Linked DNA regions of Homo sapiens: all the other regions are linked to region 1. The links come from fine-mapping of genetic effects on gene expression. A gene starts in region 1. Each other region holds a variant in brackets. All regions are shown on one strand. Distances are between the middles of the regions.

The links. PIP is the estimated chance that this variant, and not a neighbour inherited with it, causes the effect. A credible set is the group of variants that fine-mapping cannot tell apart.
Region 2: its variant is the best candidate, but not a certain one, in a credible set for the expression of MDFIC in skeletal muscle (GTEx, PIP 0.88).
Region 3: its variant is the best candidate, but not a certain one, in a credible set for the expression of MDFIC in monocytes (BLUEPRINT, PIP 0.86).

What each region holds. Positions count from the first base shown.
Region 1 is chr7:114,913,363-114,924,763 of GRCh38, forward strand. MDFIC (MyoD family inhibitor domain containing) reads left to right here and starts at 8,732. Exons shown (of 5, transcript NM_001166345.3): 1 at 8,732-9,274; 2 at 9,565-9,765. The coding sequence starts at 9,672. RefSeq lists an enhancer at 2,941-3,030 and silencers at 8,672-8,811, 9,142-9,191, 9,202-9,381, 9,612-9,751.
Region 2 is chr7:115,015,816-115,023,571 of GRCh38, forward strand. MDFIC (MyoD family inhibitor domain containing) reads left to right here. Exons shown (of 5, transcript NM_001166345.3): 5 at 1-4,102. The coding sequence ends at 120. Among named protein-coding and RNA genes, the nearest start is that of LINC01393, 59 kb to the right of the region's middle. The variant A/G (reference allele first, on the strand shown) is at 2,617.
Region 3 is chr7:115,047,327-115,058,727 of GRCh38, forward strand. No RefSeq gene overlaps it. Among named protein-coding and RNA genes, the nearest start is that of LINC01393, 26 kb to the right of the region's middle. The variant A/AT (reference allele first, on the strand shown) is at 6,245.

The DNA.
Region 1 (11,401 bases):
GATAATCCAGGAGTATCTCTTCATCTCACAATATTTACCTTAATTACATCTGCAAAGACTCTTTACCCAAACAGGTAACATTCACGGGTTCTGAGTATTAGGACATGGACATATCTTTTAATGAGCCACCATTCAGCTCACTACAACAGTCTATACAGATTGAGTATCCCTTATTCAAAATGTTTGGGACCAAAAAGATTTTGAATTTTGGATTTTTTCAGATATTGGAATATTTGCATATACATCATGGATATCTTGGGGCTGGGACCTGAGTCTTAATATGAAATTCATTTATGTTTTATAAAGACCTCATACATGTAGCCTGAAGAGAATTTTATATAATAATTTTAATAATATATGTGACCTGTCACATGAGCTCAGGTGTGAAATTTTCCACTGTGGTGTCATGTCGGTTCTTTGGATTTTGGAGCATTTTGGATTTCAAATTTTTGGATTAGGGATGCTCAACCTGGGAGAGCTTAGGTAAAACAAACAAACAAACAAACAAAAACCTCACCTTTGTATAGATTTGCTGTTTCAACCAAAATTTTCCAGTGCTGCTGATCTTAAACACAGCCAAACTAAGTAGTCCCTTCTACCTAATTTTAGGTATTTTAGGGATATGTGTAAGGTACTCCTCCCCCAGTATATATCCCTACAACATCTTCATTTCTTCTGATAATTTTATTACATTGCCTGATAATCTATCAATACAAATTCATGTAACACTTTTATTATGATGATGATTATTTTTGGCAGTGATGGTGGTAGCAGTAGTAGTAAAAGTTGTCATAATGATGGTCATAGTCATTATTTTGAAGCCCTAGAGCAGAGTTGAGTTAATCAGCACCTTGGTATATGGTACATTACCTTCACTGGTCTGTGCAAGGCCTCCCTTTTTATGCCTATGTTTGTCTGCATGTATTTATTTGTTCTCCCTAATTCCCAGTCTCAATTCTCTTCTTTGTCTCCTCATAGGTTAGCATTCTCAGATGTTTATGTACGTCCTTGTTTGTGTGTGTTCTTATAAAATGTGCTCTGTTTTCCCTGCACGTATTTTTAGTTATTAATTGGTTCTGAACAAAAATTACATTTTGCTTCTTACATGTTTCACTAAGTATCATTTTTAGATCTATTTTGTTTCTACATGTGTTTATCATCTGTTCCTTCTAATAGCTACACAATACCCCATGCTCTTCGTCTACATAATCAACTTTCTGATTTCCAAAGGATGGCTGCCTAGGTTGACTTCAGCTCCCTGCTATACAAATAGTGTGGCAAGAAATAACCTGTCTATGTCTCCTTGTGGTCCTAAGTTCATTTTTGAGGGTCTGTGAAGATAGAGACGTAACTGTTGGGGGTAGAATTAAGAAGATCATGAGTTATTCATATACTTGTATTTAACATGTAAAATCAAATTTATTCCGTATAATGCTTGGCCCAGATTTGCACACTGTCTAAAGTTGAGAACCTATGGTAACAAGAAAAGAATATAGAGCTGCAAGTGCCGGGGTGACAGATGGGCTGTTCGAAGTAGGAGAGAGAAGAAGGATGGGAGGTGGAAGGATATTCAGGAAACCTTCACTTTTTCCCGGAGTTCATTATAGGTCCCATGCTTGGGTGAACAATATACAGTCATGCATAGCTTAATTGATGGGGGTATGTCCTGAGACATGTGTCACTGGTTGATTTCATTGTTGTGTGAGCATCATAGAGTGTACTTCAACAAACCTAGATGATATAGCCTACTACACCCTTAGGTGGTATGGTATAGTCTACTGTTCCTGGGCTATAAACCTGTACAACAGGCCAGGCATGGTGGCTCACGCCTGTAATCCCAGCACTTTGGGAGGCTGAGGCAGGTGGATCACGAGGTCAAGGGTTCAAGACCAGCCTGGCCAAGGTGGTGAAACCCCGTCTCTACTAAAAATACAAAAATTAGCTGGGCGTGGTGGCAGACATCTGTAATCTTAGCTACTTGGGAGGCTGAGGCAGGGAGTTGCTTGAATCTGGGAGGCAGAGGTTGCAGTGAGCCGAGATCATGCCACTGCACTCCAACCTGGGGGACTGAGCAAGACTCCATCAAAAAAAAAAAAAAAAAAAAAAAAAGAGAAACAAAGAAACCTGTACAACATGCTACTCTACTGAGAACTGTGGGCTATTGTAACACAATGGTAAGTATCTGTATATCTAAACAAAAAAAAAAGGTAGAGTAAAAATATGGCGTAAAAGATAAAAAACGGTATGCCTGCATAAGGCAGCTCTGTTACAATCTTATGGGACCACTGTCATATATGCCATCCATTGTTGATTGAAACATTGTTATATTGCTCATGACTGTAGTTTTGTTGCAATCCTGCTTTTTAGATTTAGCATGTATTTCTTAATACAAAATTTGGAGAAATACGGGCACTGATTCAAATGTCACAGTTGATATTTTCTTTCTTTATCTGAGAATTTAAATGAGTTTAGGGGTTATAGTAACAAAAGAATCCTCATCTTCTACACCATTTTAAACATTTTTGTCATGATCATCATGCTAACATTATTTTCAACTGCAGTTTCAGCAGATCAGTCATTATTTTCAGGAGCTCCTTGTATTTAAAATTTTCCACAATTTTCATTCTCCTGGTATATCTAGGTTCAGTTTCTAAGTATGAAGCAAATGTCTACTTATTGTCTACTGCATATGTTATGGCCATTTTCATTTCTGTCTTCAGTCATGTTGCTTTTATCTGACAAGTACCACTGTATGCCTTAACATCTCCCTCCCTTCCTTTAAAACACAAGAAGGAAAGTACAGTGACAGCAAGGAGAGACCCTGAAGGCCAGTGCCCCAGGCCAGAGAAGTCAGCCAACTGAAAGGGACACTAACTGAGACCTTGGAGAGGACTAATTCAGCAACAAGAGATTTTATGCCTGGTTCTTTGGTTACCCATTCACAACAGAAAATCTTTGGAACTTCAAAATATAACAACAGGCATGACCTTACTTCGCCATCACTTAGAAATGATGGATTCATTTACGTGCATTATCCAGATAGCTGGAGCAAGAAGCCTGGATGACAAGAAATTTAGGCTCCTAAGACTGGCTCTGTAATTAATCCACGAACTGACCTTTGCCAAGTCATTTAACTTCTCTGGGGCTTTCACATTTCTTTGTCTTTGTAAGTGTTATTTCCATCTGGAATTCCCTAACTTCTTTGACAGGCAAATTTACTCATCGACAATACTCAGTTTGGTATTATCGTCTTTCTGAAATGTACCCTGACTCTCCCCACCTACGCCTGAGCTGAGTTAGGTAAGTGCTACTTCCTTTTTGCTCCTGCAGTATGGTAAGTGTTTGTGACTGTTCTGCTGCTACATTGCTGCCTTCTTCTGCCTCTGGCCTTATAGACTATGAACTCCCAGAAGACTAAAACAGTATTTCTTCTATACTTGAAACTCTAGTGTCTGGCATGTGGTTTGACATGTAGTAAATGTTCAACATATGTTTGTTGAACCTAGTAAGTAAACTTTATGTCTTTGTATTTTTCTATATGTTAAATGAAGGAGTTGGGTAAGACTGGTGATTTTTAAACTTTTAAAAAGCGGAAGAACCAGTTGTTTCAGTTAAAATTTAAGAGAAGGACTAATACATTATGGAGAAAAGGAAGAAAGTGCTCTACTCTAAGAGCAGGGTTCCAGAAACCTGCGCACCTGACCTTCCCTGCACCTGATTGCACCTGACACAGTACTAGGAGGTGGAGGAATGCGATCCATACAGCTTGGCCTGGAATTGTGATTGCTAATTTCCCTTGCAGCTGTAAAATTGTCATTCTGTGGAATTTACTCTTTCAAGTAGCAACCTTTTTTTAAAGGAATTTTTGAACATGTTTGAAAGAGTTTTTCCTGGAATGTAAAAAGATTGACCCGACCCCCTAAAAACAGAATATAGCACTCACATAACTAACTGACTCTTTCCTTAATGACTCAGGCTCATTAGGAACATTGACTATTTCACGAAGCTGAATTCACAAAGGCGTTGTTACAACATGTTTATTTTCCTGTATCTTCCTTGTCTGTCAGCTGTCATCTCTCCTGCTGTCAGTTTTTCTGACCTAATAGCTCCCTTAGCTAATCCCTTCTCCTCAATCTTCCTGCGCCCTAAGTTTTCTTCTTCTAAAACAATGTGAGCTGAAACAGTAGAAAATAAAGTTTGATTAGAGGTGTGTATTCACAAAAGAACAAGTAGGATTTGAGAAGGATTATGTCTTTTGTGTTGGCAGTTTCTGAACATCATGAAGGTTATTTTAGGTATTTAGTATGTTGCTGTTATTTCCTGGTTTCTAGGTCATTGGGTTTGGGGATTGCCAAAGTGCTGCTTCTAACATAAATTAGGTAAATATATTTTCCAGAAAAACTATCCTTGATATAATCTGGGAATGACTCCTTAAAGGATTCAAAGCATTTAAAAAGTTTTTTTTCTAAACAAAGAAACAAAGTATTTGAATGTGAACCTTTAATGTATGTTTACTTATAAATCATACCCAAGTACTTTTGTAAGAATGTGCAATACACTGTATAAAAACATACTCAAAAGTAGAAATTAAAAATTATAACATAAAAACATATATAAATGCTCACTCTGATATTTTCTGCCCACATTTCAGTAGATTGTCTTATGCATCCCTTGGAATGCCCTTACAATTACACACCCCAGTTGTAGACCTCTGGTTTAGATATCTGTGTATGGGGATTAATTTTGACTTTACTAGGCAAATAAGCCTCTGCCCAAGTGAAAACTAATTTAGCTGCTTTTCAAGACATCAAATCAAATTTCTTTATCTCCAGAGCCTAATATGTGGCCTAGCATATAGTAGATGCACAATAAATGTTTGATGAATGTTTAATGAATGAATGATGAAGATTAAGTAGTCCATAAGGATGCTTTATAAACTCTTTTAATTAGTTCTTTATTTTATTTGCTTAGCTCATGTCAGACCTCTTTCACAATGTGTTCACATATTATTATATCATCATTAGTGTACACATCACTAGGCAGGAATGGTTGTAAGGCACACAAGAATTTCAAAGGCAAGGGGCTTTGATCCGGGGCTAGGACATTGAGTTCCACCGGCAGGCTGATACCCCTAAAGAATTTCCACCTACGCAGATTAAGATAGCTTAAGACATGGCAAAATCTAGCTTAATAAAGACAACCCAGGGGGATCTGGGGTAGCAAGTGGGACACTGACAGTAGTAGTACTTAAACAGTAGTGGTTCTCCAAGCCAAGCTGATAATGGTATTATGTCACTGGGAAGGATGTGGAGAAAAGGAGAGAGGCCAGTAAGGATACACGTGGATTGAGTTCCAAGGCACAGCTGCGTCTCAGGGCTTCTGCTTTTACTCTGCACACTTGCCTTGGACATTCTTATAACCTGCTAGTCAGCAAAGTACCATGTATATGCTTATAATCCAGTCCCATGTCCAGCAGCCTATGCAGGACAGTTCCAATTAGCTGTCTCACACATGCTGCATCATTTGCATGATTAGCTCAGCAGCTTTCCCCAAAACTGGCCTCTCCTGAATGTTTTCATCTCTGTAGGTCATACCACCACCATCAACCTGGATGCAGAAAGCTGGTAGTTGCTCTCGATTCCTCTAGCTTCCTCATCCTTTATCCCTATCTACTTGGCTCCATTCCTTCTGCCAGCCATCAGCCCTGGCCTCCAAATTGGACTCCCTAGATCCACTCTCAGTCCTCCAAACAATTTTACGCATAATACCAGAGTGGCTTTTATAAACAGTAATTTAGAAAATATGTCTCCCCCTGCTATAGTCTGAATGTTTGTAGTCCCCCAACATTCATATGTTGAATCTTAATCACCAAGGTGATGGTATTAAAAGGTGGAGCCTTGGGAAACACTTGTATGTCTTTTTTTTTTTTTTTTTTTTTTTAAGAGACAGGGTCTTGCTCTGTTGCCGAAGCTGGAGTGCAGTGGCCCACATAGCTCACAGTAACCTCCAACTCTTGGGATTAAGTGATCCTCCCGCTTCAGCCTCTAGAGTGGCTGGCTACAGGAGTATGCCACTATGCCCTGCTAATTTTTTAAAAACAATTTTGTAGAGATGGGGTCTTTCTATGTTGCCCAGGCTGGTCCTAGAGTGCTGGCCTCAAAAGATCTCCCTGCCTCAGTGTGAGCCACCACACCTGGCCTCTTGTGTCTTTTTGTAAGGACATTAATTCCATTCATGAGGGCTCCACTCTTATGACCTAACTACCTCCCAAAGGCCCCACTTACTAACACCATGACATTAGGGGCTAAGATTTTAGCATATGAATTTTGGGGAAACACAAACTTTCAGTTCGTGACACTGAGTGAAAGAATGAGAGATGAACGTACTGGAGTGCTTGTCAGTAAACAAATGAAGCAATCAGAACAAGCAAGTGCAGCCAGGGATGTGGGAAATGGGAGGCGTGAGGGACACTCAGGAGCCCACACTTAACTTCTGGCATATCAGACACCAGGTTAATGGCATTAAGACCACTTCTAGGTCCTCCAGAAGGAAGACCTGAGTTACCTAGGGATGCAGGATAGCCTGGAAGAGAGACAGACCTGAGTTCTAATCCTGAAGGTACAATCCTGGCAATTTACTTATAGGGCCGATGGAAGAATTCATTGAGATCATTTGCGTCAGGTGCATGGCATGACAAACTGGTATTTTGATATGACCCTTTTGATACAGTCATTATGCCATGCTCAGCTTTACCCATCAAGATGCTTCCGTGTATAATAGTAATAATAGTTGATACTTTTGAACACCTTTTCCCTTGAGAGTCTTCCAAATTTTATAGGAAAACTACCTTACTTAGTGCTCAAAAAGAAACTCTATGAAGAATTTCATTCTCATATTATGAGGCAACCAAGGTATAGAGTGGGTGACTAACTGTCCAAAGTCACACAGCTGAATGAGGTACAGTATTTGACAACCTTGGTGATGCTACCCTACAGCTTCTCATTTGCTCCTAATGTTATTTTAATTTTATGTCTTCTCCATTAAAGATTTTAAAATTTAATTTAAGGAATATCTATGGAATCACCCACCACGTGTGCAATATTAAGGACTGTGTGAAATTAAATGAACAAATACTTATCATTGATTATGACTTTCTAGAAGAAAGCTGTAACTTCTTTATATTATTGGACTTTAACATCTTTGTGAGAGAATTTTAAAAATAGGGCAAGGAATGATACAGGGATAAAACAGAATTTTCCAGAGCAGGTAAACAACTCCTTTGAGTGCAGATGATGCTGCAGTGAACTCTGAGACGTCCTAAATGTTTGTTCTCTAGTGGTGATGAAGTCATCTTCAGAACTGATCTGCTTCCATCAGACAAATTCCAAACAGTCCAGGCTCCTAGATAAGTTTTCAAGAGAGGTAATGCACTTGATTTCATACCATTTCTGAAATCTCCAAGTGAAAAAAAAATGTTAGTTATGTGTAATGGGGCAAAATGTCATTTGTCTTTTTGGGGAGAATGGTCTGAATGACTGTCATCAGCAACTTTGAAGGCTGTTTTTTTTTTTTTTTTTTTTTTTTTAAATGGAGTCTTGCTCTTGTCGCCCAGGCTGGAGTGCAATGGCACAATTTCTTCTCACTGCAACCTTTGCCTCCTGTGTTCAAGCGATTCTCCTGCTTCAGCCTCCCAGTAGCTAGAATTACTGGCGCCCGCCACAATGCTCAGCTAATATTTGTATTTTTAGTAGAGATTGGGTTTCACCATGTTGGCCAGGCTGGTCTCGAACTCTTGACCTCAGGTGATCCACCTGCCTCGGCCTCCCAAAGTGCTGGGATTACAGGCGTGAGCCACCGCTCCCGGCCGAAGGCTGGCTTTTTTACCATCATTGAAATCAAGTTAGAATGCACTGTCTCTTCATAGGTAACAAGTAAATCTTTGTAATCAATTGGAATAAATTCCAATGAGCTTTTTGAAAAAATGAAATTTCTGGGATATTATTAATGATGCACATAGAAAGACAGTGAATCCAATGCACATTTTCTTCAGTTTTGATAACGTTACTGTGATTCCTCGCTTGTCCAAAAGAATCGAAGAATGAGTTCGTTCTAGCTTTCTACAAATGAATTCTGCATTTCATTCACAATGAAATAAAAGAGCAAAAGTTATCTGAGTATACCACTAAAGTACTATATATCTGTAAATTACTTTACACTTGCTATCCTCGGCTCATCAGATTAAGCTACAATCAGAATGTCTCATTTATAAACGGAAAGTTGATCAGCTTTTTACTTCCGACCACAAGTTTATCTCCCCTCAGATACCACTGATCCAGTGAGGCATTTAGCTTGCCATAGGCCAGGCTGGGGCCAGTACCACGGCATCCGCAAGGGTGCCAACCTTGTTTGCCTGGATGCCTCCAGCAGATTCGCGCAAACTGCAACTGGTTTTACATCAGGAATACTGTTTGACCAAAGAGTAATTTAGGAGCCAGAGATGAAGTGAGTAAACGTTCAACCGAGGGGTCAAGGTTTCAAACGCACACGTTCTCTATCCCACCAGGAAAGTTCGATACTGTAACAGTGTTTTCGTTTTTCCTTGTCCACCCTAAAGGTTTTCGTCAGGATATTCCCAAAGCCTCCGTCGGTCTGGGGGCAGGAGTAGGGAGAAGGGATGAGGTGACTTTTTGGGCGGGGTGGGGGGAACGTCTGGGCAGCCAGGGACCTGCCCATTCACTCCCCTTTCCCAGCCCCGGGAGGGCGCAGCGCCCGGGTGGGGAGCCCGAGCCAGCCCAGGCCGGCTCTGGCCTCCTGACCCAGACAGCGCAGGGCGCGAGGGATCGCGCGGCCGAGCCCGGGTCGCGCCGCTCCCAGCATCGGGGCCGCTAGCCAAGAGTTCGAGGCCTTCCCGATCCGGATGTGATGAAAAAGAGCAACAGAGGGAGAAGTGTTTCAGGATTGTAGGAGTGGAAGAGGGGAAAGAGAGGCAGAGAGGGGGAAGGCCCCCTCGCAGGGGAGCCGGCTGGAGTGAGCTGGCTGGAAAGAGGGGGCGGAGTGCGCGGAGTCAGAGCCGCCACCGCTGCCGCAGTTGCCGCCACTGCGGCGTCTGGGCTGAGCCGGAGGGAGGCGGGAGGACGCGCAGGGGCGGCCGCCGCCGTCGTCAGGCCACCGGGGCGAAAATGCGGCCGCTGCCGGAGGCTCGCTAACTTTCCGGGGCGGAAGAGGAGGAGGAGGAGGAGGAAGGGGCTTGGAGCGACTACGGGGGGATGCGGAGGTAGGTAGTGGTCTCCGGGCGGGGAAGAGGAGGGGTTTGATCCCCATCCCCGGGGTTCTCCCAAACCCGATCTCTCTTTCCAGCCCCTCCCCGCTGGGTCCACCTCGGACCCCTGGGACCCCGCCGCTGTCAACTTGCGCTGTAACAGTTTTCTTCGCAAGTTTCAAATCAAAACTTCCCCGGGGTGGAGTTTGAGGGAGGGAAGTGGAGGGGGAGGGAACGTCCCGCAGGGGTGGTGTGCTCTTCTCTAAAAACATTTTTTTTTTTAATTTTGTATATTTTTCCGCCAGAAGCAGTCAGTTCCCTGCACCCAGCACCTCACAGCCCTTCCTCCGTGCGCCCTGCCGGGCGGCGAGCTAGGCGGCAGCGGCGCGGCGCGGGCTCGGCGGAGCGGCCCATGTCCGGCGCGGGCGAAGCCCTCGCTCCCGGGCCCGTGGGGCCGCAGCGCGTGGCCGAGGCGGGCGGCGGCCAGCTGGGCTCCACAGCCCAGGGTGAGTGCGCGCTTGCAAGTGGCAAGCTTCTTTGTCATTGTTGCATTTTTCAGTTTGCTCACAAGTGCACAGATAGGGGTGGGGGGAGTGCTGTGAGGAGGGGCTCCCACTCGTAGTTGAGAACTTTTGCACAGTTCGCGTTACTCAGGCAAGTTCTTCAGGATCCTTGCCCTAGATCAACAACCGGGTAAGAGGGCGGGAACCGTTGGTCCCTCCACTCCCCCTTCCTTTGGTTGCGAAGAAACAGGATGACAGGATTGCTTCTTTCTTAAGCATATGCATGTTTGGGCCTAAGACTCAATGTGTAGGTTCTGAAGCGCTTCTCCTCTAGGTCTCTTCAGCAGATCCAGGACTGCCGCAGCTCTCTGAACAAGCGTGCACTTACTCCATTTCATCTTTCTGTTTCTTGTTGGCTCCTCTACCACCCGGTTGATAATTCAGGTTTCTGTGACCAGTAGCTTTGGAATGGCTTATGCTTGTTTTCAATAACTGGTTTGTTTTGAAATAAATAAACAAGGTTTATAAGAAACACTTTCCAAGAATGAATTAGCTTCTTTGTGTTCTTCCAAAGTGTAAACACACACAGCCTATAAAATACTCTTGTGTCTGGGAAACTTCCATAACAAGCTTCTAAACGAGTTGAACCTTTCTTCTCTTGAAGGCAATATACTTTAGGTTTCCATTGGTGACAGAGAGGAAGGTTCTTAAACTTCTAATGCATTTTACTCTAAGGATGGTTTTGAGCTAAAGAATTCTGTCACTGATATATCAGAACTAAGTAATTTTTCCAGTGCTCAAAAACCTAGCATATACCCCTGATTTTAGGCATAAACTGATAGCTTTATTTCCCACTTGTACTAATGTAGTGAATCTTAGGGATTTTTTTTAAGGCAGCAAAAATTGGAGAAGGAGTTAACTTTCAAGCTGCAATAGGTAAAAGCAGAAAACATCTTGGTTAAATTAAAATGTTCTGGCACCCAGGGCTGTTAAACTGAATTACATTTATCATTATTTTTTGCCTCTAAATGAGTGACTCAGCTTTCTAAACAGAAAATAAAAATGATTAACTGCAGAAAATCAGAGAACTAGAATGATAAACATATGTTTTCTGAGAAGCAGCCCGTGTTCTCCACCTTGTATTGTCAGCACAATCATTTTCCTGTCATTAGGCATGCCCTTAGTAGTCATATCGACTCATTGATGGGCTGTTTATGCTCACACTTGAGCTGCTAATCACAATTGTTAAACCAGGCTTATGTCAAAAATCAACATCAAACACCCAAGGAAAATAATTTGACCTGGAAATAGCTAATATCTACAATATCCAACTTTAATAGTTTGCATTTCTAAAATCATCTGGGAGAATGTGCAGTGGTACTTAATGTACCTGTGCATTAGGATGCTGGATGGTGTCATGTGATCTGAACTTAAGAACCCGAAAATCTAGAGTGGCCTGAAGTACATTTGTTGGGTACAACACACGTTATCAGTGTAGAAACTCTTGGGTTATATTTTACCTGAAAATTGCCTTAGCTTTAGCAACATAGTTATACATTTTTATTATTATTAGTTTAACTTTGATCCAAAACTTTCTTTAAATAGGGATCAGTTTAATTTAAATATAAAGTTGATTTTT
Region 2 (7,756 bases), 100 kb after region 1:
ATGGGGGATGATTGTAACTGCCCTTGTGATATGGACTGTGGCATCATGGATGCCTGTTGTGAATCATCAGACTGCTTGGAAATCTGTATGGAATGCTGTGGAATTTGTTTTCCTTCATAAATATTTATCTTTTGTTTGTGTTAAAACTGGAGAGTGTTTAAAAATTTCCTTTTGGGGGGAAGAAAAGCACATTGTAAGATTCTCATGAAACAACATGGAATTTGCACTGTTAACTCATTATTGTAAGTAATCTCTGAAAGCCTTTTTACTTTAACCAAATCTACATGGTTTAATATGTGAAATTTTAACTACTTTAACTAGTTTTATAAATTTCTTAATATGTTACAATAACTTAGGGACATTTTGACACCCCCCTTCCCAAATGTTAAATGCCTTCTCCTTTTTACCGATATTTCTGTTTCTTTTAACCGTTCTCAGGAGCACTTTGCTCCAAATATATTATTTTTCAGTGTGTATTTAAACGAGGCAGTTTATTTTGATATGTATCTATTCATGATTGAAAGGAAGCAGTCTTGGCCAGGCACGGTGGCTTACACCTGTAACCCTGGCATTTTGGGAGGCCAAGGTGGGCAGATTGCCTGAGCTCAGGAGTTCGAGACCAGCCAGGGCAACATGGTGAAACCCCATCTCTACTAAAATACAAAAAGTTAGCTGGGCTTGGCGGTGTGCGCCTGTAGTCCCAGCTACTCAGGAGGCTGAGGCAGGAGAATTGCTTGAACCCGAGAGGCGGAAGTTGCAGTGAGCCGAGATTGTGCCACTGAACTCCAACCTGCACTCCAGCCTGGGCAACAGAGCGAGACTCCATCTCTAAATAAATAAATAAATAAATAAATAAATAAATAAATAAATAAACAAACCAGTCTTTATTTTAAAAGAAACTTTAGGAAACAAACCCACATAATAGTTGGGAACCAGTGTTGATCTCTCTCCCTTACCTTCTCCACTTGTTCAACAGACTCTGAATGCCGACTGTGTGGACTCTCTTCCTCAGACTGTGGGGACAGATACAATTCCACTCCTGTCCACAGGAACATGAGATTTAGCAGACTAAGGAGATCTGTAAAGAATGAACCATACCACAAGGCATACTGAAGTGAGGATTATAAGAGAAATAAACTCAAAATGCTGTTGGAATATGCAGAGAATTGCTACCAGAATATTCAGTAAGGTTTCAGGGAGAATGTGGCATTTGAGGACTCTCTTAGAATGAGTGATTCACCTGCTATTTAAATGAATTATTTAGATTTTTGACAAAGATTTAGGTGGACACCCTAAACTGTGTGTGCCTTTAACCAGTTAAAAGAACAGTGCCTTCAGCATACTTTTTTATTAGTTGTAGGAATACAGCTTTTTGAAAAAGCTATAAAGTTTAAATTAACTAAAAATATGCATTTTCTTACACATAATTTAAATGTTATCATACTTTTTTGATGAAAACATAATGCCTTAGTAAAATAGCTCTATTTAATAAAGAAGATTGAGTACTCTGACACATTTCATTTAAATTAGGAAATTTTTAATATTAAAATCCCAGTGTTCTGAGTTATTGAAAGGCTTTCTTTTATTTTGAGAGCTTTAGGTCTTTTTGGGATGAGAACATTTTAGTTGTTTAGTTTGTTTCTTAAGCAGTGCTATTTTTTGTAAACACAGATAAATGGAAACCATTCTTTTCAATGCAGAAGAAATCTAGATATCCCCTACTGTGACCAAATTTCTGTATTACGATTTTATGTTAAATTAAACTAATATGGCAGGTTATAATGATCCTTAAGTGTAAAGAAATCAGTCAATTACAAGAGTAATTGTATAGTTATTGAGACCTATAGTGTGTGGCTTAGATGAAAGGGAGAGTAAATTTTCATACCATGCTCTCTCCTACTCAGTTTGATCTCTCTAAAATTGTAGTTTGGTTTGATTTAATATAATTCTTAGTAGAAATTTTGAAAGTATGCTTTGGGATTAATAATTATTTTTAATTTTTCTGGCTGAATATCAAATTGATAGTAACAACAGAAGCATAATTTTAGGAAGGCTTTCGCAAACCTAGCCTTTTAAGAGAGGTTTTTAACCTGAAGCATGAGAATATATCACCTGTGGTTTTTCCTTTGAGATGAAACGTAGTTTCTAGTTATATCATTACTTAAAGGGCTTAAAAAGAAAAAACTTAGCAAACTTTTGAATCTTTCTTTTATTGCTATTTACACATACATACACACATACAAAACCTTTAAATTTTGGGATCTGAATATAATTCTGGTAAACAGCTGTCTTCATTTTTCTCCTCTAAAGAACTTAATTCATTTGTTACATAAAATATAAGGAAATCTTTATACTATTTTACAGTAACCACAATCTAAATATTTACATATACCCAAAATTAACTTATGCTCATATATTAGGATGTGAGAATATCATCTGTTTATGGACACATGAAACCTCCTAATGACCTGGAATTGTTAGAATATTTGACTTTTTATATGCAAAGTTTTTCAACCAAGTGGTTTGTCTAATATTTAAACATGTACTGGCACAATTTGTGATGAAAATATTAGCACATTTGCAATAATGTTTCTCCATAACAGAGAATGTTAATGG[A/G]TACCAGAATTTTATTTTTGTATTTATGTTCATAGTACTTTTCCTCTTGTCTACTCCAGACAGTTATTCCATAAAGCATTTGTATAATTAAAAGGAAAACAGAAAAAGGAAAAGTAGGCAAATGTGAAAATAGTTTCAATATATCTTATGATTTCTTAATGTAAAATGTTTTGTTGAAGTATATGGCTATCATGACTAAGTGCTAGAATTTATAGTTACAGGCGGTGTCCTTTTAAATGTGGAAAGGCTTTTAAAATATTTTAAAACTGGACCTGTATTATCCTGAATACACTATTTTGAAAATTTTTAAAAATGACTTCTTTATTTTGCTTTACCGTATGTTTATATCTAATTGACATATTGACTAATGTTTGAAAGAATTCAACCATAAGTTAAAATCTGAAGGTTATCTTTATCATGTTTCATCCCTGTCTGAAGATTTCCTAGTCTTCTTATGTAAATCACATGACTCATGTCCGTAAATGAACTATGAAAGATATCGATCAGTTTATGATCATTGACATGTGATTTCAAAACACAGTGTTCTTTTAAAAATCTATAATATGTCAAAATACAAGTTTTTTTTTTTTACATCGTTTTAGTAAGTTAATTTCATTTATTTACTTTGGAGCTATATTTCCACTTAGAAAAACTAAGGTAATTTTACAATATATGCTGAGATTAAAAACCAAGGTAAAAATGATCAAACATATATGAAATTGAGTCTTAGATTTAATGAATTTCACTCGAAAATAAATGATCAGAAGAATTTTCATCTAAGGCATAGAGTGGCGAAATTTTTGTAAATGCTCGCAGTTAGCATCTAACTAAAACAATACAGTATGACTTTATTTAGGAGAAGGCTTTTTATTTAGAAAATTATTTTTTCATTTTTACAGTGTATCAACTGTATCCATTTTCCTCACCTGGATAGTCAATGTTATCTGAGCAGTTCAAGGAGTAACCAAGGCAACCTTATGTAATAACTTTCCATTCTTTATCCATACAAACTCTTTCAGTGCCCTAGATTCTAATGTTATAAACGTCAAACATCACTGCCCAACATAAATAAGACTCGAGACTTATTAACATAAATAAGTATCTTGCCTTCTTGAATGCTAGTTAAATGCTTAGATTTACCTAACTGCCTAATGAATCAGGTTATTTGTTAATAAGATTATTTTTCAAATTATTTAAGACCTTTATGCCCCTTCCAATTACTTGTGATTTGTAGGCCTGTAGGATTGTTGCATCTAATCTGACTGGCAACAGAAAATGTCATCAAATACTATAATATCCATTTTGTTTTCTTTTGCACTAATACAACAGAACATATCATTTTTGTTTTAAACAATGGTTAATATATTAATAGGGTTTGTTCCACACTTACTATTTATAGTTTTTATAATCAAGCATTGGGTATTAAAAGAGAATCCTTTCAACCCTTCATCTTCGTATGCTTATACAATAAATTGCAGTGAGTGTTTTCTTTGTGCTTGGATTGATACTAGACACCTCAAGAAAGTCACATAACCCTCAAGAAGTTTCAACCCAGGGAATAAGTTTGGCACCTCCCATGAGAAAACAGTTTCAACGGTGAACCTGCCAGTATTTACTTCCTTATTTAAGATTGCTTTTAGAGTTTGTTTAAAATAGAAGAAGTTGTGGAGAGGGGATACTATTGTAATGCAGCCCTAACATGGAGGGTGGGTGTTGCAAAAACTGTCATTGGTGACTAAATCTTCTACATACATTGCAAAATTCTCAGTGGACAATGACTGCCCCTTTTAAAACACTGTAACTCAAAATATCATATTTATGACCAAATTTTTATGAAGACAATAGACAATCTGGAAATGAAATAAAGCCGCAGCGGAGCCCCACCTGGAAAGCAATGTCTCTATGCAAACAGAATCTGCACCACCTATTCTTCACCAAGCTGTCATAATAGCATGACACTTTCCACTAGAGCCTCAGCTATAACACTTAAGCAGCTAGATGTCAAGTTAAGTAGCTTCCTGCCTTCTGACTGAACTGTGGCTAGTAGTTCTGCTTCCATTGTTTGTTTGTTTGTCTGCTTATGCCCTCAATTCCTTACCACATTCCATTTAGTGCTCACTGAAAAGGAAGCATTAATTTAGTTGTGAGGTGACCATGAAGAAATCATTTCAGATAACCATCCTTTGACACATTACCAACATGGGGTATAGATATATGTGTTAAAGACAAAGTATAGCTCTGCAATTAGGTGTTCACTTCCAGGCAGGTCTTTGTGTGAGGTTTAGTTGAGAATGTAATTATTAGGAAAATGGTGAAAAGCAAATTCAAACAAATTCTAAGTTTAGCTTGAAAAATGGAAAAGGTTCTTAAGTTCTGTCTGATGCATAAAGGGGTAGAAGCAAAGGAATTATGCTCCAAAGCCAAGAAAGAGGGTGTACAAAAGCAGCTGATCCACTTGACATAGTTCATAGCCTTTTGCAAAGGAATAAAAGCCTGTTGAGCAGGGAACCAAAAGATCTCATTATAGGATGAAGCCAAGCCATATTAAAGCTTGTGCACTAGTAACTATGTCTAAAAACAGCCTGCTGTTTTATATTGAACCAATACATTTCTTAACTTGGTAGGTTGCAGTGTAAAGATGTACAGAGCCTGTCTGCTGGATGCTATGCCAATTACAGATGTGGCAGAGTGGTGTCAAACACCTACAAACAGTTAGATCGCAAGCAATCTTAGAGTGAAACAAAAGAAGTTTTAAAATGTCACCTCAAAACCTAGTTAATCGTGTGTGTTTGACTTTTAGAGTCTTGAAATCACCTTTATTATATAATTTCATGTGGACGTCATATGCTCCCTCAATCAGAATGCACAATTCTTTCAAGGACATGAATAGTGCCTGAGAGATAAGGAGAATATCTTTTAAAAGTAACATCTTTAGATGACAAGGTGTCTCTGATCAGCTCTGCAGAAACTGTGTTTTATTGGTGCTGAGGTGAAGGAGGAGTAAAATACTCATGAATACATATTATATTAGATTTTGTTAGATCATCAAAAAGAATAATTGGGCATATTTACACAATTACATTTTAGTAAACTGTTATGCCAGCCTAACTATAATACATATTCTGGTAAAAGTACATTAAATCGCAATCCAAAAGCAATTTAGCAGCTGAGGACATTATTTTTTATCTAATTATTCACAAATTAATGAATAAAATTAAATTCCAATCACTGAAGAAAATGAAGCAATGGTGAGAATCAGAAGTACAGATTAGTTAAAGCAAAGATATGCAATGCATAACAGAATTAAAGCATTTCTTTTATTCAAACTCAGTGCTTAAAAAAGAACAAATCCATCATCTTGAAATTTGACTTGTAGCTTGACATTAAAAATAATATGAGTAGAATTTTCAGTGGGGTAAGCACAAAACTAGTTCAAGTTGTGTCACTCTCAATTACTGTACTCAGGTGGTGTACCCATTAAAATTCCCACTTGTGGGTTCCGCTCGCTATGCAAATGGGGTCATTACCCGGAGAATTTAATTGGTTATGACACTGGGAGTAGGACTTTTCCTTTCAAAATAAACCTACTTACACACATTTTTGCTAGAAATTTGATTGTTATATGTAGTTTGCATTGTTTTGCTCTATAAATATTTACAACAATTAGACTGCCCTTACTTATTTTTTACAAATAATTAAAAATGGGTCCAAATTAATCTGATATGGTTTATTTGTCTGTAAGACTAGTTAAAATGAATCTTTTGTAAGTCATATTGCTTATCAAAACATTATTTTAAAAAGCCTTTGTATCTTCCCAACCATACATCAGATGTGGGTACATTTCCAGCAATGTTTTTCATCATTTAATAGTAACATTTTCTCTTTTATAATAGTTCTAAATATTTAATTTGAAAGGTTTCTTCTATTTTTCTCCTTTTTTGTCACTTTAAAAAATACGCAGCTAAAGAGTTAACCTACCCTTAGATTATATATAAAACATATAATATGTAATATTGCTGAGGAGCCATGTCTATAACATTTCCAAGGTCTTTATATTCACTGATAGCACTGGATGGGGTCGTTATGTTGTCAGAGTCAGTCCTAGAGATGCTTCCACTGTTAGCCATGAGACTACTAAATTTAAAGCAAAAAAACACCAAATTGGTGTGAAAAGCACAGGGCTCCATACAATTTTAATTTATTGTGGCGACTTCAACTAGAGAACGCTGTTTATTAGCCACCTATCAAAAATCTTGATAATGGCCTGAATTGACAAGGAACACTGAAATTACAGTGTGGTTTAATGGATATGATATTAAAATGAACATCCAAGAATTGAGTTCCTGGACACTGACTCTAAGAGCAGTTCCCAGAGTGAACATAAAGTAGGAACAGAGTTGCTGTAAGTATTAATGGGATAATCTCAGGGAAGCACTAACAGTTTCTTGAAAGAGACGGGTTACACAGTCTAAATTTTTATTACTACATCAAGCTGTACAACAAGCCAAGGTTTTATCACTAGTTTATCTGGACCTGAAGGGAATATGTTTCCTTTAATGTAAAAAGGAAATCAGAGAGAAATAATTCCAAGGATATAGAAAAGGAAATACTATAAATTTATAACTGGACCATTGGGCAGGATTTTTAACATCTGTAACTGTGGGGAATTTCCCATAGAATATCAAATATGGATCCAAGTCTCTGACATTCATTTTTCTATGATATTTCTAATTGTGCCCAGAGGATAAGAAAGAGTTGGCGCATCCAATAAATATAATCATTTACATGCACGGAGCTCCCTTTGAAGTTAATAGGACCTATGGAAAGGGGAGTTATGCACCACAAAAACGAAGTTCAACGTGAATCTAGTTCTTTTTTTTAACATGCAGTGGTATTGCCAATGCATTTGGATTTTCTTGCTGCTTATCTTTCCTTTGTGTGTGATGTTTAAGTTGGAGTTGAGGGAAGTGCTCCATGTGTAGAGGAAAGATAGCCCAAAAAAGAGGATGTGGTGATTGGCAGCTTACACTCAGGGACAGCTTTAGGAGATAGCAAAAGTGATAGGGCTGACATTTGTAGAGCTTGTTTAACTTTTCAGAAGAAAACCGTATCCGTTTTCTCATTTGATCTTCACAAAACT
Region 3 (11,401 bases), 130 kb after region 1:
ATAGAGAATTCATTTTGGTTCAAGGACATATTATTGTCTTGATTGGGCTTATACATCAAAAGAAAGAATTAAAGGGTTCTGATGAAAACTTTCCACCCGACACACAGGTGGCTGAAAGTATGTGCTATCTTTTCTTGGGTCCTTTTGTCACCTTTCTTAGCTTTCTTGTTTTGAAACATGATAATAGTAGTATTTGAGTTTTCTGGGGATTTTTGTTCTATATTGCATGCTGTGAAAGGATTTTTCTAGGTTCTGCTTCTGGGCTCCCTCTGATCTTGTGATGTTAAACACACTGCTGTCTTCCCTCGGCATTACTCTCATCATTTTCTTCTCCACTTGTTCCACTTCTGTCCTGTGTATGTGGGAGGGGGCTGTATAGAAGATGTGAGAGGAAATTTAGTAGAATGGCAGGGTAGGGGGATGTCAGGGAATCACACTGCTGAAAAAAAGGCCTCCACAACTTCTAAAAGAAAAAAGGATAGGCTGTACTGGTCTTTGCATTTTTTTTTCAACATAACCACAAAAGTTAACTTTTTTTTTTTCCAATGAAAGCTTTAAAAAAGAAATAAGAAATATTGCCACTTATCTTTGAATTTTGATACCATCCAGTTCCTAGAGTTGTGTCCCAAATTCATGAAAATTCATGATTTGTTTTCTAAACAGTAGAGAATGATTTATGTAACTCAAATCCCATATTTTCTAGTAAGACTAGTGTCACTTTGACCTTGAAGAACTGTGTGAATTGTAATGAAAATAAATATTTCGATAAAGCATGACATCATATCTTGATTCATTGTGTGTTGTGTATGTTTAAGGAAATACTAGTACTTCCTTCTGATAGTTTTAATACCTTGGGAAATATGTTGACGTTTGCTTTCTGCTTGCCCCAGGGTCATGTTTGGAAATTCCACTCAGTATTAGAACCAGATTTAGTCGGTCAACAACAACACGGAATGTTAAATTTTTTGTTTTTTGGACTAGATAACACTTTTTAAATATTCTCCCTATGCCGGTCATTCTGGTGAGAAATATATATACAGATGAACACCAAGGAAAGTAAACTGTTGACAAATATATTGAAGAGTAATTTAATATAGATCAAATACCTTACATATAAGATCTTTCCACTATCACTTTCTGCAATTCAAGGCTACAGTTTAATCTGTCTTTGATTGTGTGTTGTTTTTTTTTCTGGAATGAAGGGCTGGAATTATATAATTAAAACAACCTGCATGTGCTAACATAAATTTGATTGGTCTAGACATAAGGATTAAATTTAATAGTAACCATGATAAGCTTTGAGGGTAAATAATCAGACTTTCGGAGGCCATCTACTTCATACTTCATAATCATCAGAAATATTTTACATTCATTACAGAACTTAGCATAGTTCCTGGCAAGTATATCTAGAAGATAGATAAATATATGCTTTTGTTGAATGAATAAATTAGGGATATACCAAGCAAATGAAGTACTTAACAAGTTTTTCTTTTCTTTTCAAAAAGATATTTTGATTCTAAGAGAAACAATGCTTAAAAACAAGCATGTAGTGGACGACTAAGACAACTGGAAAATAGGCATTGAACAAGCCATAAACTGACAAAATTAACTGCTCTCTCAGCCCCGTTAGTGAAACACAAGTATATTTGTGAGTAAAAAGGGTATGTTGCTAATGTCTCAGCTTTCAACACCTAGTGCCTTCATTCAGTAATGCACACAAAGTGTTGTAGGTTTATATTTAAAAACCTCAGAGGGCGATTCACAGTTACTCTTATTAACATATTCTAATACTAGTGAGAGTTCTCTTTCTTTCTCTCTCCAGGTATAGTATATTATAATTGGTTTAAACAAAGTCCCTCTCTTGTTTTATCTATTCATTTATTTTCTTTTGTCCACACACCATACTCCCATTCTTTCTCACTCAATCATCTTTGGATACATTCTATCAAATATCTTATTGAATTTTTGCATATAGTTTTAAATTTTGTAAATGATATTGCTTATTGAATCACCTATATTTTCTACTCAGAACAATAATTTAGATCTAATTGGCTGAGTGCAGTGGCTCACACCTGTAATCCAACACTTTGGGAGGCCTAGGCAGGCAGATCACTGGAGGTCAGGAGTTCTAGACCAGCCTGGCCAACATGGTGAAACCCTGTCTCTAATGAAAATACAAAAATTAGCCAGGGGTGATGATGCATGCTTTTAATCCCAGTTACTGTGGAGACTGAGGCAAGAGAATTGCTTGAACCCGGGAGGCAGAGATTGCAGTGAGCTGAGATCGCACCTCTGCACTCCAGTCTGGGTGACAGAGAAAGGCTCTGTCTCAAAACAAAACAAAACAAAAAAAAACAGAGTTAGATCTACCTATGCTGCTCTATGCATATCTATATATATGTGTGTGTGTGTGTATATATATATATATATGAAGTAGTTTACTATGACTTGGCAAAATAAGATAAAGGATGGTAGGAAAAATGTGGTGGTAATAAATAAGATGAAGCTGGAAAGTCATGAAAGGTTTTCCTAGAACATGGTAGGGAATTTGTATTTTAAATTTTCGGCCACAGTTTCCATTAGATTCACCTGAGATTGAGAATTTATACTCCTGGACCCTAACCACAGAGATCTGACCTACCCACCTGATTTAAATTAATTTTTCTAATGCAATAAAGTTGATTATGTTTCTAATTTGTGTCATGTTGACTTCTGCCCTTGAAATTAATAGTAGGGAAGTTGTTTCATTTCTAGATCTGGGTTTTAATACCTTGAAACTTGGGAAGAGGATAGTGCTTAGAACAGTGTTTAAAACATAATGTCAATAAACTTTTAAATTTGAGGATGATTGGAGCTGGTTATATCATGTATCAACCAGTCATCTGAGCCTAGGTCAAGGCTATTACAATTTTATGTTGACTCTGTCCATCTCTAAAGAAGAAAAATGATCACCTCATCTATCCCTTTCACCGTCAGTATCTGGGGAAAAAAATGACTATTAGTTCAATAGGCTGTTGGCTTTTAAAGTAAATAGATGGATCATAGATGATAGAAAGATGATAGATTATATAGATAGATACATAGATGCATAGATAGATAGATAGGCTAAAACCCTGAAATAGACATTTTAAACCAGTTATTCACATAATCCTTAGGCATGTTAAAGTTTGAGAACTTTTTGGCAATGGGCAGCCATAAAAAAGTATCATATATTTTAGAACTAGCTTGTCTAATACTGTAGCCACTAGCTACATGTGGCCATCTAAATTAGCATTAATTGAAATTAAATACAGTTGACATACAGTTAACATTTCAGTTTCTTTGTTGCACTAGCCACGTAGTATGTCCTCAGTGGTCACACGTTTCTAGTTGCTACTATATTGGACCTTAAAGATACAGGACCTTCTCAGTATTGTAGAAAGTACCATGGTGAACTATGTTTTAGAAAGATCATTCTAGTGGCAAGCAGGGAGGGTACACTAGGTGGGAATAAGCCTATAGTCTAGTTGACAAAACATTTTTTGAAGTCAAGAAAGAGTGTCCAGAAGATAACAATTACTATTGTTGAGTACTGCTCAGCAGTTAAGGATAGTGAAGATTAAAGTTATTCCACTTGATTTGGCTATCAGCAGGGTTGGTAACCTGTCAGATCAGCGTCAGTGTTGCTGGTGGAGACCAAAGGCAGAAATGGGAGAAAGTGAAGGAGGCTGCAATAGAGAAAATATACTTTTAAGAGGCTTGGCTGTCAATGGGACAAGACAGTGCATAGAGGGAAGGAAATGCAGAGATGTGGGAATTTTATTTTAATTGTAGGTGGCTTAATTAATTTACAGACTAGAGAAAGGGATGAGTACAGAAGGAAAAAATGAAATTACAGGATTAACAGCACACATATTGGGTGACTTTAAGTATTTAGTGGCCAAGGAGGTGATGACAATGGGTTTTCTTTTCATATCTAAAACAGTTTTCATTGAGAAGATAAGAAAAAAAAAGAATAAAACATCTCAGAAATGAATAAAATGATTTGAAATCAAAGAAATATTACTTCAAAATCTTAGAAGCATACTTCAACAAATGTTTAGGAGTACATATAATATTGTTAACATGCCTCAAGATACAATGAATAAATACGACAGCAATACGGAGCATGGTGCTGCTGGCTTCTGAGAAGCAACCTTTCATTAGTGATACCAGATACGAGTTTCCGAAGTGAAGTGGTGAGCAATTGGTTGAATTTCATGGTACAGACTGTGTTGGAGAACTTTAGATGAGTAAGAACTGTGATAATCTAAGGAAGCTTTTTGGTTAAGACTCTAGACTTTGAAGGACGGCTGGCATTTGTAAAAGTAAAATAGTAGAAGAACAAGATGAGAGGAAGATGAAAAAGGTGGGAAAGAATCAGTGAAATTCTGATTTATGAAGTGAAAAAATTTGCCTTGACAATTATAAAAAGGAATTTGGATTAATGTAATAGCAAAGATAAAGTCATTAAGAAAGTTTATTTTCCACTTTTTTATAAATTAAAATACTCATTGCATTGAATTTGGAGGATATGAAGTGTAGGCTGGGCATGGTGACTAATGCCTGCAATCCCAACATTTTGAGAAGCCGAGGTGGGAGGATTGCTTGAGCCAACGAGTTAGTGACCAGCCCTGGCAACATGGTGAGACCTTCTCATCTCTATGAAAAATAAAAATAAAAAAATTAGCTGGGCATAGTGGCGTGCATATGTAATCTCACCTACTTGGGAGGTTGAGGTGGGAGGATGGCTTAAGCCTGGGAGATTGAAGCTGCAGTGAGCCATAATTGTGCTACTGCACTCCAGCTTGGGTGACAGAGCAAGACTCTGTATCAAAAAACAACAACAACAAAAAAAAAAAAAACAGAAATAAAAGAAAGAATAAAAAAAGAGTATAGAGGAAAAAAACCAAAAACTACTTGTTATCCAGCCACTGGGATTGGTTATTGATATTTTATTACATTTCCTTCAAATCATTTCATATGTATAAAAGTATTATAGCTTATAAAATTTTAAAACATACTGTGCTATACAGAATAAAGGGCCCCAAAGATATCCATGTCCTAATCCCTCAAACCTGTGAATATATTAGACTATATATTGCCAATTTACATATTACATGTCAAGGGGGAATTAAGGATGCGGGTGGCACTAAATTTGCTAAACACTGATCTTGAAATAAAGTGATTATCATGGATTATCTGGGTCTGCCCAGTGTAATCCTAAAGCCCTTTATGTTGGAAGTGAGAGAAGAGTCCATACATATCAGAGTAATAAAATGCGGTAAAGACTATCCATTAGTGCCTTTGAAGATGGAAGGGGGCCATTACCCAAAGAATGCAGGCAGCCTGTATTAGTCTGTTCTCACACTGCTATGAAGAAATTCCCAAGACTGGGTAATTTATAAAGGAAAAAGATTTAATTGACTCACCGTTCCACATGGCTGGGGAAGCCTCAGGAAACTTACAATCATGGTAGAAGGTGAAGAGGAAGCAAGGACCTTCTTCACATAGTGGCAGGAAAGAGAAATGCAAGCGGGGAAGATAGCAGACGCTTACAAAATCATCAGATCTTGTGAGAACTCTCTTACTATCACAGGAACAGCATGGGGGAAACCACTCCTATGATCCAAACACCTCCCACCAGGTATCTCCCTCAACACCTAGGGATTACGATTCAAGATGAGATTTAAGTGGGGACACAAAGCCTATCCATATCAAAGCCCTAGAAGCTGGAAAAGGCAATAAAACATGAGAGCTTCTGAACTTCTTTATAGCTTCTAGAAAGGAAGGCTGATTTGCTAACACCTTTTCAGCCCAAGGAAACCCATTCTAGACTTCTGACTCCCAGAACTGTAAGATAATATGTAGTGCTGTTTTAAGCAACTAAGTTTGTGGTATTTTGTGTCACAGCAACAATAGGAAACTAGTATATGCTATATTTGTAATTTTACATTTTATAAAATTTTACATTCAATTGTATGTATTTTCCTATGGCCAGTATTGTTCAAGAATTATATGTTTATGTCTATATCAAAATATCTTATATAACCCATAAATATATACACCAACTATGTACCCACAAAATTCTTTTTTTTTTTTTGAAATGGAGTCTCGCTCTGTCGCCGAAGCTGGAGTGGAGTGGCGCGATCTTGGCTCACTGCAAACTTCGCTTTCTGGGTTCAAGTGATTCTCCCGCCTCAGCCTCCCGAGTAGCTGGGACACA[A/AT]TTTTTTTTTTTTTTTTTTTACAGAATCATATGTTTAATGGTTGTGTAAAAATCAACTACTGGATCTATTGTCGAACACTTAGGTAATTTCTCATTCTCTGTTTTTGTAACGAATTATTTGAAAACACTTTCATAAACACATTCTGAATTTGTCCTTTCTTAAGAAAATGAATAAAACTTTAGTTATACTGCCAATTGGACTTAAAAAGGCACTTAGCAGGTATTACCAGATTGCTCTTCAAAAAGGTTGTACCCATTTGACATCCAACCTAAATAGCCCACTGACAGTGGATGGCATTGCTGAAAAGAACTTTTCAAAAATGATTATGGAAACACGGAATCTCATTTTTAAAGACTTTTATTTACTCTTTCTGGTTTGTCTATCTTAGAAGTCATTACATTTTTGATAAACATAATTTAATTTTCATACAATCAAAATTATTGACTTTTGTCTTTTATTTTTCTAATAATATTTGCACACTAAATGATCCTTCCTCTTTAGGTGCTAGGTTATATACACTGTGGACCTTTGAAGTATTTTGTTTATCAATGAAAATAGTTTTTAGAAGAGTCTTAGGTAGGATCAAGTAGGATCATAGATTTTGGAAACATTGACTTGGGGAAATGGACACATGATCAAGTGGAAACTAGGAGGTATTTGGAGGTGGGGAATTAGAGCTCAGTCTAGAGGAAGGGTCCAGCAATATGGCTTTGGATTTGGAGAAGAAAGGAGGCAGCTGAACTAAGAAAGAGGATAAATTATTGGAAAGAGATATTTACAAAGAAAGGAACAGAATCTTCAGATGTGGGCAATTCTCTTCACCCCTTCCAAAATCCACCATGTGTTGTATGCACTTGGATATCAGTTAGCATGGGGAAGCAAGTGTGGATATCACACCACAAAACCCCTTCCTATTACTAGCAGTGAGCTCAGAGCACATCTTCATGAGAGTTATGCTGCTCTCCTATATTTCCACAGCCTGCTAATAGGTTGTTTGCTGCACCTTCAGTCCCTTCTCAACATAGTTCTAATTCCTTTGTGACAATAATATGGTTCCTATGCCTAAAACCTCAGGTAGAAGCCCAAGTTCTTTCCAAGAAGGCTTCCAGTCCCGACTGAATTATCTGTTCTACTCACATCCACTCTGCTCTCTGACCTTATTGGTTGACTGCACTTCCTCACTTATTCCTGCTTTCCTAACTATAGTAGACTCTGCTCTTCCTCAACAAGCCATTCACACTTTCATTGCAGTACCTTGGCCTTTTGCCTGTTATGTGCCTTCCCCCTTATGACTTGGTTAATGACCTCAGATTTCTTGAATCTGTGCTCACGTTTCACTTTTTCAATGAAGCTCACCCTGACTATTCTATTTCCTCCTCTGAGTGAAACAAAACCTAAGACCCTCACTCGCTTCCTTCTTTTTAGAAGAAATTAACAGGGAAGAGCATTGCATATTCCCTTTTAACAGACTGATTTGCTACATTGAGTTTTCTGTTTCCAGCCCCACCAAGGCAGATAGTATGTGCTCAAATAAATATTTGTTGAATTATTTATTTCCTACAAACTGATTAACTTCAGTTCTTTCTACTGTTTATGTTAAATAGCTTTGCCATATTTACTGGAGTTCAGTTTCAGGCCATTAAGAATTCTATTTTTTATTTTTCTCTTAAAGTAAACTTATTGGAGCAGTGGTCCTCATGTTAAGATTTTTATCATTTTGTATTTGCATTTTATATAAACCTCTCTTTTGCTTGTGTAAATGACAAGTTTCTGGGAAATGGTGCTCACCAGCATCTCACACCTGCCTTATTGATGTTTGATGCTTGATTTATTTGTCTAGTTCATTCATAATTCCTTGATAAATTTGGCAGAGCATTTCCAATGGTCTGGGGGCATTTTCTATGAACTTGCTGGCGATGTGACTAGTTCCCCCTGGTGTTATAGCTTTTGAGAGGCTAAAAATAAAAGACTGAATTATTCCTTTACCTGGCAGTCTTTATTGCTGCATTTCATCAACTCAATCCTACTAAATCATTAATTTGTTTTACTCACATGCTTCTACAGGCATGATGAAGAGGGATCTGCAAAAATGCCACAAAATAAAGTGCCTTCTTTATTGCAAACCTGACATTTGTATACAACAGAAAAATTCTCTTGTAAATTCTCTTAAATTTTTCTATAAAACAAAGGCCTGGCCTCCTACATTTGAAAATGCAATAAAATCACTCATATCAAAATAAATTTTTAAATATTGTGGAGAAGTCTCGCAATGCCACCACAAGACTTCAAGAGCATTTATACAACCAGTGGATGAAGAAAGGCTCAAGAACAATTCTGTGACTCCTCCTCTTTTCTTTTTAGATCTAGGCCACTGTCTTCTCAATTTTCTAGAAATTCAGTATGCTAGTTTCCTTTGGTATCTTCACAAAAGGATCATATTCCATGATATTGAATTTTAAAATTTAGAGCTAGAAAGAAAATTAGAAATTATTAGTACAATTCTCAGATTGTCTTTGTTTGGGCTGCTATAATAAAATACCACAAATTAGCTTATAAACAACAGAAATTTATTTCTCACAGTTCTGGAGACAGAAGTCCAAAGTCAAGGTGCTGGTAGATTGGGTGTCTAGTGAGGGCTATTTCCTGGTTCACAGACAGCAGACAGCACTTTCTTGCGACGTCCTCACATGGTGGGAGGGGCAAATGAGCTCACTTGCTCCTGTTTTATAAGAGTACTAATCTCATACATAAGGGCTCTGCCTTCAACACTTAATCAAAGGTTCTACCTCCTAATACTATCAACATGGGAGTTAATATTTTAGCATATGGATTTTGGGAGAACATAAACCTTCAGAACTTAGTACACATCATTTGGAACACAGTCTGGATCACAAGGCATTAGAATCCCTGTCCAGTGTCCTTTCCAGACTAATTATCAGCTTCCATATTTTTCAAACTTGAAGATCTACAGCTAGGAGAAAAAATCTAGTTCAGACTGTTGCTGTCAGGTGGATAAAACATTATTTTCTCCAATTTACAGATAAGGCAACTGAGATCTAGAGAGTTTATTAACTCCTCCAATGTTATAGTTAAATTATTGCTAGAATTCATGCTGCTCAATTCTCCAAGCCCTCCAATTTATAATTACATAAACAAAACTACTTAACATTAACCATAATTGCAACTCATCTCAATTAATCTTCTACTCAATGAATTGTTATTTTATTTATAAATATTTAGAGAATTTTTGTCATTGGTGATAACCTAAGTTCTGGATTTCATATTTTGGAACATTCTTCTAAGTATAGGCACTGTAATTTTTTGGTTGCTCATGAAATATTTATTAATGCTAATGCCAATAAAAATAATGCCATGGTGATTATACTCTTCAGTCATTAATGCCCTGAAAGAAGTAATTTGCAAATTGGTACACTGTCACTCAAAGTGTTAATTTACCACATGTGGGTAACAAATTACTCCTGGAATCAGGCTAGGCACAATTGTTGAGGCCCTGGAGTTTTTCTCCCCTGTAGCATTCACATCCAATCAGTTTCCAAATCTTGTAGAGCTATTTCTATAGGCATCTCATCTGTCCTTCCTCCTCCCTCCATGATACTGCTACTGCTATCATCTGAGTTCATTTCTTTCTTATCTCTTGTTTAGTGAACTGTACAAGTAGCTGGTCATTTTGCTGTTATTCAGCCTCTGTCCAAAACCATCCTACACAGCTGCCTGATGAGCATTTTCAAAACACAGTTTTGCTTCTTCATTTGCTCCTAAATAAAACTTCTTTTGCACACCTTCATGTGAACACACATGCACACACATATACAATGAGTGCCAACTTTAGTGCACTTTTGAATCTGCCAGAGAACGATGAAGAGTGTGGCCTTGTCAGTGGAATTTTATAAAGCTCCCCAGATGATTCTAATGTGCCCTCAGGGCTGAGAACCATCTTTTAAACTTATTAAAAGAGGCAAATTGTTGTAGAAGGGAAAATAACTTCTAGGAGTCAGGAGATTGTTCATTTCTGGAATTTGCCATTGGACAAAAGCATGATCTCCAGTACATCAAATACTACCACTGAAGCTCATTTCCTCACCTGTAAATGTAACATTAAGAAATTGGGCTAGGTTAATTTATTTAGCTAACATTAACACAGCACTTATTATTACTTGGCTCTGTATTTGAAGCTGAAAATCTAGTCTTTGCTCTAATCAACTTTACAAAGCACAGAGAAAATGATAAAGAAAATAATTACAAATTATCGAAAAAGCTATGAAGAAAATAATTGATGATTATTATAATAAAAAATATGGGGTGGAGATAGCCAGTAAAGACAATAGTTAGCAACCAAGATTTTTGCTTTTCAGATGACCCTGATCTCAATCTTATAAAAATCAACCAGGTAGACCACACCAATAGAAAGTAACAATAGTTTCCTGAAGGGCTTATTATTTGACTAATAGAATCTCATAGATTAATAATTCTTGTTTGGGATTCTGCTTCATTTTCCCTTTCACTTTATACAGTCAAGTTTTTAGGAAATATATTTAATCCATTCTTTTGGATACTTTAATTGCAGCCAAAAAAAGTTGGTTTAGGGTGACTGAACTTAAAATAATCAATTGTCCTCTATAATGGGGCTGTAATAGAAATGTCCAATTTGGGGCCAGGTCTGGTGGCTCACATCTGTAATCCCAGCCCTTTGGGAGGTGAAGGTGGGAGAATCACATGAGGCTAGGAGTTTGAGACCAGCCTGGGTAACATAGCAAGACCCCATCACTACAAAAAATTTAAAAAGTTAGCTGGGTGTGGTGGGATATGCCTGTAGTCCCAGCTAATGAGGAGGCTGAGGTGGGAGGATTGCTTGAGCCCAGGAGTTCGTGGTTGCAGTGAGCTATGATTGCACTACTGCACTCCAGCCTGGGCAACAGAGTGAGACCCTGTCTCTAAAACAATATCAACAAAAACATCCGAAGTTAAAATAGAAAATAGAAGTATCGAATTTTTCCTTACTGGGGATTGTTAAAACTGAGTCCATCGCTTCTGGAGCACAGTCACTTTTTGAGGCAATATAAATCTCTCAAACTTATAAATTATCCAGCTATTGGTAATCCTTAGTTTTTCTTCCAAACTGGCAGTGCAAAAATGCA